Regions from separate parts of the Homo sapiens genome. Here region 2 is linked to region 1. Evidence: fine-mapped expression QTL. Tissue or cell type: whole blood. Region 1 holds a variant in brackets; the other region holds the start of a gene. All regions are shown on one strand. Distances are from middle to middle.

Region 1 (8,340 bases):
CCCCTGAGCTGGGCTTTGCCCTGGGAGAAAGGAAGCAGCGAGGTCCTGAGTGGGATGGCACAGGGCACGTGGGGTGTGGGTGATGGAGGACGTTGAGCTGGGTGGGGAGGGGTGGGGCATGTGTGCGGCCTGGCCATGTGGATCCTCCCAGGGGAGCTGAAGCCCAGGGGCCAAGATGCCCCGGCAGTTGGTGCCTGGTTAGGGAGCTGGGGTTGCGGACCGGCCCCCGTTTGTCACTTGCTGGCCTCTCCCCTGCTACCCTGCAGGCTGGGCTGTGGTGCCACACGGTGGTCTCTTTCTGGGCTGGGGTGTGATTCTTTCCTTTCTCCTGTGGTGTAAGAGTGCACAGCTGTGCAGGAGGCCGCCGAGGGCGTGTGTGTGACTGTGTGTGCTGCGCGTAGGGCCGTGTGTGCTGGCATCTGCGCACGCGTGTTTGCAGGGCCCGCAAGTGTGTGTGTGCATGTGTGGTGTGTGGCATGCGACGTGCCTGTAGAGAAAGTGTGTCTGGGGGCCCCACGTCCTCAGGCCTGGCGCCCATTGACCCCCGTTAAGCCCAAGCCCCATGGCTAGATTGTAGGCGGGACTGAGTTGCTTCGGAGACCTCTGCACTCGACTGTGGGAGTCTTATGGGGGCCTCCTGGGACGTGAGCAACCCCTGCCCTGCCTGGCAGTGTCAGCACCTCGGGCGGCCCACGCCTGGCCCCGCCACCCTTCCCCTGCCCCACTCCTGTGGCAGTCACGGTTGAGCCGCACCTCCTGCGGTCCTGTCCCTCCCTCGGGGTCCTGGGGACCAGCCTGGTTCCCTGAGAGCAATCTGATGGAGACCCCCTGAGTCCCACCCCAGCTCCCCTTTCCTGACCCCTTCCCAGCCCCTCTCCTCCTTGAGGAACCAGCACCCTCCTCCTGCAGCCCGGCCACCTGGACATGGGACGAGGGCCCCACCGTGTGGCCACCTGGACACCCTGCAGGGCGGCTCCTCGGCCTGACTTCTGCCTTCAGCACCCAGGGCTCCTCCTCCTCTCCGACTGTACATGTGAGATGGGAGACAGAGACACGGGGACGGGGACACAGAGACAGGGAGACAGAGATGCAGAGAGATGGAGGCGGGGAGACAGAGACGCAGAGAGACAGAGACAGAGAGACAGGGAGACAGAGACACAGAGAGACAGAGATGAGGAGACAGAGGCGCAGAGACAGGGACACAGAGATGGGGAGACAGAGATGCAGAGAGACAGAAGAGAGATGGAGGTGGGGAGACAGAGATGCAGAGATGGAGACAGAGACAGGGAGACAGAGACACAGAGAGACAAAGACAGGGAGACAGAGACACAGAGAGACAGAGAGATGGAGAAGGGGAGACAGAGACATAGAGATGAAGACAGAGATGAGGAGACAGAGACACAGAGACAAGGACACAGAGATGGGGAGACAGAGATGCAGAGAGACAGAAGAGAGATGGAGGCGGGGAGACAGAGACACAGAGATGGAGACAGAGAGACAGAAACAGAGAGACAGGGAGACAGAGACACAGAGAGACAGAGGGATGGAGACGGGGAGACAGAGACGCGGAGACGAAGACAGAGATGAGGAGACAGAGACGCAGGGAGACAGAAGAGAGATGGAGGCGGGGAGACAGAGATGCAGAGATGGAGACAGAGACGGGGAGACAGAGACACAGGGAGACAAAGACAGAGAGACAGGGAGACAGAGGGAAGGAGACGGGGAGACAGAGGCACAGAGATGAAGACAGAGACAAGCAGACGGAGATGCAGAGACAGGGACACAGACACGGGGAGATAGACAGACAGAAACAGAGAGACGGGGGAACAGAGACGCAGAGACAGGGAGACACAGATGGGGAGACAGAGATGCAGAAATGGAGAAAGAGATGGAGATACAAAGACAGAATTAGAGAGAGACAGAGATGGGAAGAGAAACAGAGACAGAGACAGAAGCAGAGAAATAGAGACGCAAAGATAGAGACAGATGGGGAAGAGACAGATAGAGATGGAGACAGACAGACAGAGACACAGATAGAGATAGACAGAGATGGGGAGAGAGGCAGGTAGAGACAGAGGCAAACAGAGAAACAGAGACTGATGAGGCCACACACCCATCCTTCTGTTCACCTCAAACCCTCTACCCCTCTCCCTGCTACAGATGGAGACCCCCATGACCTGTGTGGTCCAGAACCCAGGTCTTCACCTCCCCCCAGTGTTCCTGGGCCCACCGGTTTCTCGAGGATAATAGTGAGCATGGCGGTGGCTGGAGCCCAGAGCCAGCTGGGCCACAGCACAGCCCAGGGACGGCCCACCCTCTACCAGGCCAGATTCAGCCCCCTGATGCCAAGACCCCAGATCCAGCCCAGGCCCAAGCTGACCCCTGCCACATCTGCCCCTGTGAGTGGTGCCCACGAGATCTGATGCCCTGACTCACAGGCAGGGGTGGGCACCGGCCCCCCATCTTGGCAGGCCAGGACGCCCTCCTCCCAAGATGCCTCTTCCTCAAGGAGGTGGAAGCAGCCTGGCTCCCCTAGTCTGAAGGCCTGGGCCCCGCTGCCACTCACTGTCCACAGGCTTCCGTTTTCCCACCTGTGGAATGGGGGTGATGGAAATACAGCCCCAGGGCGTCGTGGTGCTGCACAAATTTGCGAGGCCACCAGTGCCCTGCAAAGCTGGGGGGTGCCCCATTGCGAATACCTCAGCGCAACCCTCCCCGGGGGCGGGAAGCGGGGAGCAGCCTTGCTCAGGGCTGGGGTCTGAACTTGGAGCCGCGTGGCCCCCCAGAACAAGCCAGGGCCTGACTGCATGAGTGCTCACTGCATGGCCGGTTTGCTAAGGGTGGGCTGGCCAATTCAGAAGGGAGGAAAGAGCCCTTGGTGGGAGTCAGTGAGGGGCAGAGGTCCTCTCAGGCCTCCAGAGACCTTTCGAGAAGCCCCCTGCTCCTACCTGGGTGTCTGGGAGCTGTGTGGAAGTGTCCCTAGAAAATTCTACCCCTGACTGACCATGTCAGGGACTTGGGGAGCCCAGAGGCATCTGGGAAATTGGGGCCCATGGGCACCCACCTTCAGTGCACCCGATGCCAGCTGGCCCGGGGGCCCCTGAGGTGCCCACAAATGTCCCCACAGACTGCCCTGTCAGGTTTGCCTGCCAGGCCCCTCCCCGGGCAGGGAGGGGGCTTTGTGGACCCCCAGCCTCTTTCCGGCACAGGCGGCCGGGAGCGAGGTTATGCCGCAGATGGCCGCAAGGGGGTGCCAGCCTCAGGGAACACCAGGGAAGGGGCTGGGCCTCAGTCTGCAAGGACAGAGATGGCCCAGCATGCCTGCCACCTGCCACCCACCAAGAAGTGTGCACCCCAGGCAGCAAGAGAGAGGATGACAGCTGCAGAGAAGAGGAGCGGTGGCCAGCGGAGCTTAGCTGGGGCATGGGCTTGAGTGTGGCTGCAGCCATCCCCATCCACGGAGCTAGAGGGTGTGGACAAGTGGGAGTGGGGCAGGCGCCGGAGCCCCTGGGAGCAAGCATGCTGGAGGGTCCCTGGGGTGAGCTCAGGGTGCAGGGGCCAGGGAAGCTGCAGGACCCAGGACCCCACCCCATCCATATCCCAGATCAACATGATCCAGGGAGAAACATACTTGCAACTTCTCAGCCCACAGATGCACGCAGTCACATACAAACGCACACACACTCAGCCCATCTGCAGCAAACTCACGTCCATGCCCTGCAGAAGCACCCGTGCACACCATGGAGACCCTTGTGCCCAGGAAGGGCGCACAGCCTGCTCAGGTTTGTCCCTGTCCCTGCAGGCAGGTCCCAGATCCAGCTGGGCGGCAGGACCAGGACCCAACGCCTCCCCATCTGCTGTCCCCTCCCTCCCTGTCCCCGCTTGCAGCCACCATCACCGCTCTCAGCAGGCTAAGCTGGCCTTCACAGGTGGCCTGGTCTTCCATTGACCCTCGGCATGCACACACGGGTGCACACAGGGCCAGGTTCACACACTCTGACTCTCACATGTGTGCACACAGGGCCGGGCTCACACACTCTGACTCTCACATGTGTGCACACAGGGCCGGGCTCACACACTCTGACTCTCACATGTGTGCACACAGGGCCGGGCTCACACACTCTGACTCTCACATGTGTGCACACAGGGCCAGGTTCACACACTCTGACTCTCACATGTGTGCACACAGGGCCGGGCTCACACACTCTGACTCTCACATGTGTGTGCACACAGGGCCGGGCTCACACGCTCTGACTCTCCCATGTGTGCGCACAAATCGCAGCTGTTTCAACACCAGCACTACTCTGATAAGTCCCCGGGCACAGGCCCCAGCTCCCCACCCCCCGGGTTTGGAGTCTGGGGTCTTGAGGGAGAAGAACGTGGGGCCGAGGGTACAGAGGGCTAGGCCTCGAGTATGGGGTTTCAGGTGGGGTGTCCCTGTGGGTGGATTCCCAGGGGCCTGCCCTCCATGGGGTTCATAGCAGCCCCCAGCGAGGGTGGACCGGACAGTAAACAGGAGCTTCCCTGCAGGCCTGTAGCTGAGGCCCTTCCAAGAACAAGGGTGGGGCTGGGCCCCTGCTGGGCACTGTGCCGAGCTCCCGCCCCGTGCTCCACCCTGTACTCCCTGCTCCAGGCCGGCCCGATGGTGCCTCCATTCCTGCCCCTGCTTTTCCCCTCCCTGTGTCCACTTGGGCCCCTGCTGCCCTCATGGACGGTCTCTCCTTAATTGACCCCCAGCCCGCATCCTGACAGAGCTGTGCCTTCCTCGGTCTCCCCGCTGCTGAGGACAGCACACGGCACACCCTGCCCCTGCCTGGAGCCTCTGCCTACCTCCCAGTGGAGCGGAGCAATGGTGTCACCTGTCACAGTGACACAGACCAGGGCCACTGTGTCGCAGAGCAGAGCAGCTCAGCGGTGCCCGCAGGCAAGGTCAGGATGCACATCCTGGGAGAGAACATCTTGTGCCACAGCCAGCAGGACCGTCTGGGGCTGGTGCACCCACCAGGCCCTGTGACGCCACTGTATCTGCCTGAGCCATCATTGCACCCTGTCACTCCGCTGATTCCCACCGTAGCCCACGGGGTTGGTATAAGGACACATGCC[A/G]CCCAGGTGGGGACACTGAGGCCCACCGGAGAGTGGCCAAATGAGGCCTCGAGCCTGGGCCTCCTCTTTTTTTTGAGGAGACGGAGTCTCACTCTGTGGCCCAGGCTGGAGTGCGGTGGCACAATCTCGGCTCACTGCAAACTCTGACTCCCTGGTTCAAGCTATTCTCCTGCCTCAGCCTCCTGAGTGGCCGGGATTACAGGCATGCGCCACCAAGCTGGGCCTCGTTTTTACACAGCAACCTCCCCAGGGCCAACCCTGTTCTGGCCTCTGAGCTGCCCCCAGGCAGCCTCTCTCCTGTTTACCTAGACACTGTCAGACCCTGCACCAGTGCCTGATGCCCAGGACAACACTGGCCCCTCAGTGGGCAGGGCTGTAGCCAGCCTTACCCCTGGAAACAGGGGAGAAAGGGAGGGAGGGGGGCCCACATGCAGTGGTCGGCCGCTGTGCACCCCCCTGCAGAGTCAGCTCAAGACACCGGGCTCTGCCTTCTGGGGTTCCCAAGGCTGCTCCCCTGAAGAAGACTGCTCAGTCCCAGCTGCCCCAGACCAGGCCCTTGGTGGGGGGTCCCTGAGCCTCCACTCCCTCCGGGAATGGCTGATCCTCCTTGGAGCCGAGTTTTTGTGCTGTGGGGAGAGCACCCAACCATGGGGGGCACCCTGGTAGCTCACGACATGGACCCCTGCCCACGGGCATGCCCTCGGCCAGCCTGGAGACAGCTGCTCTATTGACTGCCGGGCCAGGAGTGTCCCAGGTTAAGCCAACAAGCCCCCGCTTTCTGAGAGAAAAATCACCTCCTTTGGGTGTGGAATATGGGGGGGCGGGGAGCTGGGAGGTCGGGAGCCCTGGCTGGACCACAGGGCCTATGGCTGGGGACCTCTCGCTGCCGAGGTCACAGTGAACTGAGACCCCCTCGGGTCTCAGCCTGGAGGGGGTGACCCAGGAGGGTGCATTTCTGCTTCCCCCCTGAGAAGTCACACCACACCTAGCAGGGGCCCCTCCAGGGTGTACCCCAGGGGTCTAGGGGATGTTAATGATTGGCCGTCTCGGTTCACAAAGATAGTCATCACCAGCACCATGGAGTGGCCACCGCCCAGCTCTGTCAAACCTGGACTTAGCCTCATGTGCACCTTGATTTAAAGAACAAGAAACCAGCCCTGCCCACGCCCCTGGCTCACTGTGCTTCCCTCCCTCCTTCCCTCCTTCCCCAGACATAGCCACCACTTTGAATCTCGTGTCCCATGGGGTGTCCACACAGGGCACCTGATTTATCCAGGCTCGGGGAGGAGGGGTCACAGATTGTTCCCCAGGGGACTTTACCTAGTCCGTGTGTTTGCTTTAGGAGTTCTGAGGCCATTTGGTTTCTTTATGCATTTCTGTATCTTTTGCATTTTTCTAGTGAGCGTGGGGTTACTCTTTTAATCGTAAATATATATATACCTATTTTTTCAGTTAAAAAACTGTGGTTTCAGGCCAGGTGTGGTGGCTCAAGCCTGTAATCCCAATGCTTTGGGTGGTCAAGGCAGGGGCATCGCTTAAGCCCAGGAGTTTGAGACTAGCCTGGGCAACACAGTGAGACCCCGTCTCTACAAAAAATTGTTTTCAAATTCGCAGGGCATGGTGGCGTGTACCTGTAGTCCCAGCTACTCAGGAGGCTGAGGTCGGAGGATTGATTGAGGCCATGGAGATTGCAGTGAGCCATGATCCTGCCACTGCACTCCAGCCTGGGTGACAGAGAGAGACCTGTCTCAAAACGAAAACAAAAATCTGTGCTTCCTCAATAACAAATTGAAGCCACCAACACCCTCGTCCACCGAAAGGTTAGCATGTGCCTGGTGACAAAGTCAACAGACAAAGGGGACTGGGGAACAGTTCTGTTCCTCTTCCTCAGAGTCCTAGGCCCCAGGCCCCTCCCTGAGACAGCCTCAGGGCCTCCTCCTTCCCCTCCCTCATCCTCCTCCTTCCCTCTCTCTCCTTCCTCCTTTGCTTTCTCCCTCTGCAATCTCAGCCACCTGCATCCGCTTCCTCCACCCCGACCTTCCCGCCAGGCAGGTGCCCTGGGCTTGCTCAGCATGGGCAGCCCCCGGCTCTGCCCCCTGCACACTGGGAGGCTGCTCCACTCTCAGGGGTCTCTGGCTTTCCGTGTCCCTGCAATTAGCCTCCGCGTGCGTGCAAGAAGTCAACACAATTTGGCTCCACGTGGCCCCGGTGCCGATTGTGGACAGATAAAAGACAAACTAACGTCCTGCCCTGAGGATTAAGATGCAGCTGTTTCCCTGGATACCGGATCAGGCGTAATTAGACAAAGGGAGTGCTTTCCAAACCTACTCAGCCGAAGGCCCAGGGGCAGGCAGCCCTCACCCCCAGGCAGCTGGCACGGGCTCGGGCCCTTCCTTCCTCCTTGTTAAAAGCGGATTGATACAGACGCCATGGAAAAGGTTTCTGACACGCAGCGGGATGATGGCAGCAAGGCCACCTGCGGTGACAGCGAAACAAGATGCTCAGAGCCCCATTAGCAGGGCGGCCACGTGTGCGTTCGCCTTCGCCTCTGCCCCTGTTTTCTCCAGTTTTGTTCACTTTGCTGTATCATGGACGATAACACATCTTAGCAAGAAATCAATAAACGGTCCCGAGGCTTTTAATGGAGAAGAAATAAATAGCAACCGCGCTTGGCAGTCTGGAGGAACCAGCGCTTTCTGCCTGGACCCTGAGCCTCAGGCTTCACCGCCAACACGGCCATCCCTGTGGGGCGGGAGCAGCCTGGAACGGGAAGGGTCCACCCTTCTTTCCCGGCTTCCTGCAGAGGGCGGGGAGAGGCTCTGTCACCGTGCCCCTCGGAAGCCGGCCTGGGCTGTGTAACTGGGGACTTGTGGACAACAAGCCAGAGGGGGTCCTGCCAGGCTCTGGATGCCCACTCTGCCCATGAGGAGGGCACAGGCAGCGCAGTGCCGTGGCAGGCAGGCTGCCGACCTTATGCCCCAGGGGCGGCCTTAGTGCTGTGTAGACCCAGAGGGGACACGCCCCAGGGCTCCCTGAGGTGCTGCCTCAGTGGCTGTGCACTCCCAGCACCCGGGGGGTGTGCCCACCAGCTGCCCGGCCCCTGAGTGGGCCTGTGTCCAGTGCCCCCCTGGCCTCCCGGGAGGAGCTGCTTGCTCTGCCCCAGGGTTGCTGAGAGACAGCCTTGCCACTGACCCGGCCGGTCTCTGCCTCCAGCCCAGGCCTCTGTGCACGCTGACT
Region 2 (8,000 bases), 110 kb before region 1:
TTTCCTGTGCGAGAGGCCAGCTAGGGGAGAGGCCGGAGGGGTGGGGGCAGGCAGGAAGGGGCTTTGTGGGGAGCATCCAGGCGCCCAGCCCATTGGAAAAAATCTTTCCACTCCCTGCTCCCCTTCCCTAGCCCCTTCACTTGTGCTCATGCGTGCAGACACACATACAGATGTGCCAGATGCAACACGCAGACACCACACCCGTATGGCAACAGGGGCAGGTGAAGACCGGTGACAGATACTTACACACACACACACACACACACACAGAGGCACCTGCACACGCACACACACATGCACACACACACTCATGCACATGCACACACACATGTATATTTGCACACGCATACACATAGGCTCACCCTCATGCACACACATGCATGCAGCTCAATGGAGCAGGTCTCTTGACTGGGGTCTCCCAGCTCCCTGCTGTGGCCATGCTGAGCTCACCATCCAGGCTGGGTCTAAGTGCATTGGGGCTTGGGAGCTGTGCTGGAGCCCACCCAGCTGGGACTGGAGTGTCCTCAGGACCCCAGCCCAGTGCAGGCATCCAGTTGGGGGCCTCCAAGGCTGCTCTACAGGCCTGACCCACATGTCAAGTCACCCTGGCCTTGGGGCTGGCTGGGGACACAGAACCTGAGCCCAGGTGCTCCCTGACCGCCTTGGCCACAGATGAGGGTGCTAGACTGGTTTGTGCACGGGGGCAAGGTGGGGTGGGAAAGGCTGGTGACTGGGACAGGAGCCCCGTGGCCCAGCGGCTGGCTTCTGCATATGTGGCCTCAAGCCCAGCACCATGGCACCCCCTGGTGGACGGTACTGCAGCCCCAGCGCTGGTTCTTTCTGGGCCTCCAGCTCTGACCTGGACCCCTTGGCCTGGCCCTGTTGCCAACCTTTTCTTCCATCCAGGTGTCCCTTTGCAGGCCACACACCCTCTGGGGGGGGGGGCAGACTACCTGCCTTGTCATCTCCCCACTGGGGCCTCCCACCTGGCCCTGAAGCCAGATAGCACAGGCCGGGGTTGTCCCTGCCCATGCTCGTGTGCCCCGGAGCAGGAATCCTGGCTAGTGCTGGAGCTGCTGGGTCCTCCTCTGCCCACCATGGGCCCACCCAGGGCTGGTTGGCCCGGCAGCAGCTCCAGGAGGTGACTCTATTCCTATTCTTGGAGACATTTATAAACCAGGGTCATTAAACAAGCATTTGCTGAACTTGAAGGCTGAGCTGAAAACCCTGCCAGCCCTGGGGACCCAGGAGGCTCTGCCCTCAGGGACCCCCAGAGTGGTCCAGCTTCACAGGCTAAACAGGGAAGCAAAGCCCCCAGCACAAGCTCCTCATGGCTGGAAAGGGGAGACGGGAGGCTAGAGGGACAGGTGGGAGCCCGGGGCGCCAGGGAGGAGCTGCCCCAGCTGGGGTGAGAGAAGAGGGCTGTGGGCCTAGCAGGGGCAGGACAGGCGTGGGGAGGCTGCCGCCAGGTGGGGTCTGCGATGACCATCGAGTGGCAGGGACCAAGACAGAAGCCCATGGGGAGGAGTAGGAATGAGGGTGACAAGAGGCCACTGCTATGGGGTGGGGTGGAGGGGCCTATGGGACCTCGGGGCTGGGGAGACACCTCCGGCAGCTGGGAAGGAGAGTGTGCAGCTCCGGAGAGCCCAGGCTGGAGAGCTCAAGGGGCGTTTCCTGAGCCTGGCCCGGCCTCCTCCGAACAGGAAATGGGATGCTCCCAGTGCCCTCCCAGAGCTTGCTGGGCAATAGAACCAGACCCTCCCAGGGACTTTGGAAACAGCTCCCAGGGTCAGGAGGGCCGTCTCTCTCTTTCAGAGCTCCTATAGGAACCCTTGTTGGGCGTGTAGATGACAGGGTGAGGTAGGGCCTGGTGGAGGGGCCTTGGCTACCCAGGTAGGGGGTCTCGGCTGGCTAGCATCCCTGGGGCCTCTGTTTCTGCCTAGATACTCAGGTGTGGGGTTGACGTGGGGGTCTCGGCTGGCCAGCATCCCTGGGGCCTCTGGTTCTGCCTGGTCACTCAGGTGTGGGGGTGGCACACAGCCCTGCCAGCTCTTCACTCCTTTCTAATTCTTTTCTGGGGGCCTGGGCATCTGGGAACACAATGAACTCACCCCTGCCATGAGGCCCTGGGCCTCCCTCACGGTGGCTGCAGCGCTCAGCACGGCTCCCAGAGTCAGGAGGCCCACCAGGCTCAACCCCGCAGAGAAGGCTGGTTGGGAGGAGAGAGGAGGAGGGTTAGGGGTGCCCAGGACAGGTCCTGAGTGCACACAGCCTGGGTGTGAAATCTAACTTGGGAGTCAGGGGCCGTGAGGGACTCCTGGGGGGCTCTGAATGGGCCTGTCTCTCCATCAGACGGCCCTGAGGGAAGGAGGAGGGAGGTGGGACTCGTTCAGCCTGGGGGACTGCCCCTCCTTCCCTCTTTTCCTCCCTGCCCTCCATGCCTGTGGGGCTATCTTGGAAGCCACATGCTCCCTGCCATGCCCTAGTGACAAGTGGCCGGACTGGAGCTGTAATCTTATCAGTCTGGACCTGGACCTGGGCCCCAGGCATCCTCCTGCCATGTCCTAGTGACAAGTGGCCGGACTGGAGCTGTAATCTTATCAGTCCGGACCTGGACCTGGGCCCCAGGCGTCCTCCTCCAGGGAGGCCCTGGTCCTAGGACTTGGGGAAAAGCATTGGGTTCTAAGGCAGTATCCCTGACCTCCTGGGCCTCAGTTTCCCTACATCTGCCCACCGGGCTGCAGCCTTCCTGGGCCCCCTGAGCTCCTGCCTGAGAGTCCCCTGCAGATCTGGCTCTGACATCCCCTCATTAAAGGGGCCTTCCTCAGCCTTACCCCTGAGTGGCCCCAGCAGGCTCTGGCCCTCGCTCCCGCTCTCTGGATGTTGGATAAGTCGCTGCTGAGTCCCTGCAGGGAGGCGTCTGGCTAGAGCAGCCCCCACCCCCTCCCCACCCACATCCCAGGTCCTGAGTGGAACATCAGCCATGTGGAGCCCTCATGGACCTGCTGTGCCCAGCCCCAGGCCAGTCCCAGGCCTGCCTGGGACTGAGCCCTGACTGCACAGAGCCAGGTCCTGACCGCACAGAGCCACTTCCTGACCCTGCCCGACATATACCCACACTGTGCCCACGCTCCTGTGGGGCACGAGAACCAGGCAGGAACACTGGCTGTCACCCAGACCCGAGGCCCTGCCCAGGGGAGCTAGGACTCCAGGGCAGCCCCTCCCTGCCCCTGACCACCTCTGGCTCCTGCCTAGGGCCTGGCACCATTCTGGCTGTGAGGCGTCCAGCTGGGCTCGTGCCAGCCACCCTTGCACCCGAGGCCCCTCCCGATGCAGCCAGGCCTGGACCTCACTTACCCCATTGGTGCACAGCCTGGTACGGGTTCTTCTCCAGGGACGCTCGGCGGATGACAGCAAAGTGGGCCCCGAAGTAGGTAAGAGTCACCATGGTGGCCACAGAGAGGCCCAGCAGCTGTGGATAGGGCAGACTCAGAGTGTGGGGCATGGGACTGCTGCAGGAGCAGGGAGCTCGGCCCCAGCGGGCAGGGTTGGGGCTCTCTCCAGCTTCCCGGTCCCGTGAGAGACAGGCTCAGCTGCAGGGATTCCCGGTGTTTCCGTGGAGTGGTCTCAGGAGGCCTTCACTGCAGACGCCCCAGCACACTCACAGGCACCCCCACATGGTAGACGCATACACGCACAGCCCAGCTTCCCCAGACACCCAGGACCTCTGATCATTGTGTCTACGGAGTGGGAGTGAGCCCCACCCCTGTGCCAGCACCCTCCGGGGCAGGAAGGGGAGAAGATCCCTGGAGCCCGGCAGCCAGTGCCCCTCCACCCCAGCTCGCCCCAGGCCTCAGCCCCACTCAGGCCTCCTCCAGGCTCTGTGCTGCCCCTCAGGAGGAGAGACGGGGTTGCTCATGGTGGTCCCTGCCTGCCTGCGGCTGTCTGCAAGGGCAGGACACATGTCTGCAAGGGCAGGACAGGGACAGTAGGGCTGGTGTGTGTGTCAGGGGAGGGATAATCCCTGTGCTGAGGCCCTGCCACCCCTCACCCCTGCTCACCCCCACCCACCACCCACTCCTGCCCGACCTGCCTGTTACCAAGATAAAGAAGCAGGTGACCAGCATCTGGCATTTGGCAACCCTGACTCGACTCCAAGGCCCCATGACGGTTCCTCTCCTCTCCTCTCCTCCCCTCCCTTCCCCTCCCTGTGGTTTCCAGCTGGGCAGGGGCCTCAGACCGCAGCTCACTGCCCAGGAGGTAGGCTGCATCCGCCCCTCTGTCTGTCTGTCAACATCGCCCTAGGACCGAGCTGCTGGGTGCCCCGGAAGAAGGGCAGGCAGGAAGGGGAGGGGCAGTGAGGTTGGCTCCCCCCACCACCTCACCCTGGTGCCCCCAGCCCAGCCCAAGACACCAGGGCATTTGCTGACATCTGAGGCCCTTCCCAGGAAGACATGGCCTCGTTCTTGGTGTGGCCACTGAGGACGGCGCTGAGAGGGGGAAAGTCATGGGCAGGACCTGGTGTGGGATGTGGAGGAGACGGCGCCCGGGGAGGAGGAGGTGAGCTCCCCGTCCTGGGAGTGAGCAAGTGTGGACTGGGCCTTGGGGGCGTAATCCTTGGAGGAATTTGGATGGGGTCTCCTTGGAACATCATTATTGAGGTGTTCTTAGGAAACACCCTTTGAAATGTCCTGTGACAGCTTAAGTTTTGAGAAGGTCGTTGGTTTTAATGCCTTCGTGGGCGGCACTCATGGATATTTTGTCGCAGAGCCTTCTTGGGGCCACAGGGGTGGGCTGGGGCCTCGCTCACACTCACGTGGGGCCTCCAGGGGGAGGCTTTGTAAACCTCGAATTTGCAATTACACCGAGCCGTGTAATTACGTATGGGTGGGGGCAGCGCTGCGGCCCCAGTACAGGCAGGGTTTCCGTGGGCCTCTGGGGCAGGGTGGGCCTGAAGAGGGTGAAAATGTTCCAGGTGAATCCATCATTCAGGGACCACTCCGGGCCCTCCCAGGAGTGCTAACAGGCGGCTCTGCTCGCCCCTCGGTGCTGGAATTGCTCCTCCTGCATTTGGTCAGGACCTCATCAAGGGGGAGGGGGCCCCAAGACCTGCAGGCATGGCAACCCCAGCGTGGCTGTGGGAAGAGGGCCCAGCTGCCGCCCGCTCAGGAACGCTGCTGGAGGAACTGCTGAGGCCACCGCCTCCCTCCCTCTGCGGAGGGAGAACCAGGAGAACCAGGAGGGACAACCAGGACCCCCGTCCAGCCCAGCACCCCCAGGCAGCACCCTCTGCAGCTCTGGCCCCCAGGAATTCCCACCCTGAGTCTGTGGGGGCTTGTGGAGACCTCAGATGCCTGGCACCCACAGTGTCACTTCAGCTGGGGGCCTAGGTGTGGCTCAGACTGGGGCGCAGGTATGAATGTAGGGGTGGCAACAAGAGTGAAGGTACCAGGTCTAGGGGCAGGAGGCCCCCGGGCTGTGCAAGTGGGCAGCCCGTCCTCTCCAGGGAAGATGAGCTGCTCTTGGCTATGTCTGGTTCGCCCCTAGAATTGTCTCTCTCCAACCTTGACCTCCCTGGAGCTGGTGAGGCGGGCCTGGAGCACCACCCGCTTCTGGGACACCTCTTCATCAGGTCTGAAGAATTTCGGAGCAGGGCGGGCCTGGGTTCTTGACCTGTCCTGATGGCCTCCTTCTCACACCAGCGCTGTGCCCAGGTGGCCTCACTTGTCATCTCAAAGTGGCGTCGAACCCCCTGACAGGTGGACGGGAACCCCCGGCTGGCCCTCCAGAGACCAGGTCTGACCACAGCCCCCCTCACTGTGCCCCACCAGCGGGGGCAGGGAGCCGGTGGAACCCCCACGCCCTTTGCTGAGCCACACCCTCCCACCCCAACATTCCCTCTGCAAGAGGAAGTGGCTTGTTGAGGGGAAGCCACTGTGCAGGCTGCTGCCCACCCCACACCCTCCTGCCCACCCCGCACACCCCTGCCCACCCCGCACACCGCTGCCCACCCCACACATCCCTGCCCACCCCACACACCCCTACCCAACCTTACACACCCCTGCCCACCCCACACACCCCTGCCCACCCTCACACACCCCTGCCCACCCCACACGCCCCTGCCCAACCTCACACACCCCTGCCCACCCCACATGCCCCTGCCCACCCCACACACCCCTGCCCACCCCACACACCCCTGCCCACCCTCACAAACCCCTGCCCACCCCACACACCCCTGCCCACCTGCTCTAGAGGTGGTGCCGGCCGCTGGGAGCCTGGAAGACCCCTCGAGCAGCGGGTTCAGCCCCAAGGAGCTGGCCCAGGAGGACAGCTGCCCCCACCCCTACCCCACCAAGGAGCCTGTCCTAAGGGCTGGGCCCCACTGCAAGCTGGCCTAAGGGCCCCTGGCTTTATTTCCAGGGAAGAGATTGGGCGTGGATGCATGTGCAGGCATGGATGCGTGTGCAGGCGTGGATGCGTGTGCAGACGTGGATGTGTGTGCATGCATATGTGTTTACCCGCCAGGGACTTCCTTTTTCCTCTCTCCTTCCTGTGAATTCCTGGGTCCCAGGTGCGCCCGCTCACTCTACAATGTCCTTACCCACCAGGAGGCCCCTGGCTCAATGATGCCACCTGCAGCTGCCCAACCCTCCGCCCATGGTGCCCTTGTTCCACCTGCCACCGCTCATGAACCTGTGGATCACCCAGCTCTGCACTGGCTTGCCTGCTGCTGCTGTCTCAGTTTACCTGGGCAGTTGCCCCTGGCTATCCGGCTGGGATGGGACTTGGACTTAGAAGCAGGCCCCTCCTCTGGAAAGCTGTGTCCTCGGGCCAGGAGGTGGCAGCCTCTACCTTCCTGAGACAGGGACCCTTTTCTGTCCATCAGAGGTGAGCAGCCGGGCTCTGAGGCTGGAGCCTGGGGGCCCCTGTGCTGTCTGTGAGCGCGGCCCCTCCCACCGGGGAGGCACTCAAGAGCTTCCCACCTGCGTCACAGCGAGTGGGGCCTGGAGCTTGAAGAGACCTGTGGGGGCCACGCGGGCACCTGAATCTGGCTCATGTCTGTCCTTTGCCCTGATTCTGAAATCCACGTCCCAGGAGCTGCCTTTGCAGCCTCTCCTGAGCCCAGGGAGGAGGAGGGCAGCTCCCCTTCTGGATTACCCTAGGCCTGGGTCAGCTGGGTGGGCCCCAGGGGACCTTTGAACCCCTACTGCCTGGGCAGCCCCCTTCCCCTGGAGGCACCCTGGCCTGTCCCTTGAGAGCCAAGACCATACTCAAACTGGGTTCTGGGCTCTGGGCACTGCTCTGCTCCCAACCAAGGGAGTTTCTGGGGCATGGCTGCCCGGGCCTTCCCTCTCAGTGCCGTGGGCTGCTGCCTCCGCTGGCCAACTCCAGTGGGCACTGAGGGGCACCCTGCTTCCCCCCCCAAGGAGCCTAGGCTCTGCCCTCAGTGAGGGCAGAGGGGACCCAGGGATGGCTGCCCCTTCATAGACACAGCTGTCTCCCAGGGGAGTCTAAAGGGACCCCACACCTGCGTCACAGATACCAGGGACAGACTGTAGGGGAGGCGTCTCTATCCACATCCACGCTGTGCCACCCACTAGTATGTGGGGCCGGGCACCACCAAGCCTGCTGTCCTGCCTGGGCCACCCCAGCCTGGGCTGAGACTCGGCACCCCGTGGGGGTGGAGGAGTGGGGCAGAGGCAGGAGATGCCTGGGGTAAGAGCCAGATGCCTTCAGAGTGACCCCCCGGGCCTGGGCAGGACTGGGGGCAGGGGAAGGTCCCGCTGGCAGAAAAATGCACATCGGACCCTCCCCCTAATGGTCCCCACACTCCCTGTGCAGACAAGGCAGGCTGCAGGGCAGAAGCTTCCTGCCCCATTCCTGGTGGTCAGCGTGCTTTATTTAGCCCTTGATGAAGAGACTGTTTCATGACCAGCTGGGGCAGTGAGCTCCTGACACCTTTAAAGGTGCAGTGTTGCCTCTCTCAGGAACCTAGAAGT

Evidence for each region. PIP is the estimated chance that this variant, and not a neighbour inherited with it, causes the effect.
Region 2: it holds the start of C11orf21, and the variant in region 1 is fine-mapped to the expression of C11orf21 in whole blood (INTERVAL, PIP 0.90).

What each region holds. Positions count from the first base shown.
Region 1 is chr11:2,190,001-2,198,340 of GRCh38, reverse strand. No RefSeq gene overlaps it. Among named protein-coding and RNA genes, the nearest start is that of MIR4686, 21 kb to the right of the region's middle. The variant A/G (reference allele first, on the strand shown) is at 5,104.
Region 2 is chr11:2,298,316-2,306,315 of GRCh38, reverse strand. C11orf21 (chromosome 11 open reading frame 21) reads left to right here and starts at 4,398. Exons shown (of 4, transcript NM_001329958.2): 1 at 4,398-4,560; 2 at 5,703-5,796; 3 at 6,609-6,888. The coding sequence starts at 4,508. The coding sequence ends at 6,860. It overlaps TSPAN32 (tetraspanin 32), which reads right to left and starts at 4,303. Exons shown (of 10, transcript NM_139022.3): 1 at 4,101-4,303; 2 at 3,358-3,472; 3 at 2,112-2,209. The coding sequence starts at 4,166. RefSeq lists an enhancer at 1-399 and a silencer at 6,763-7,057.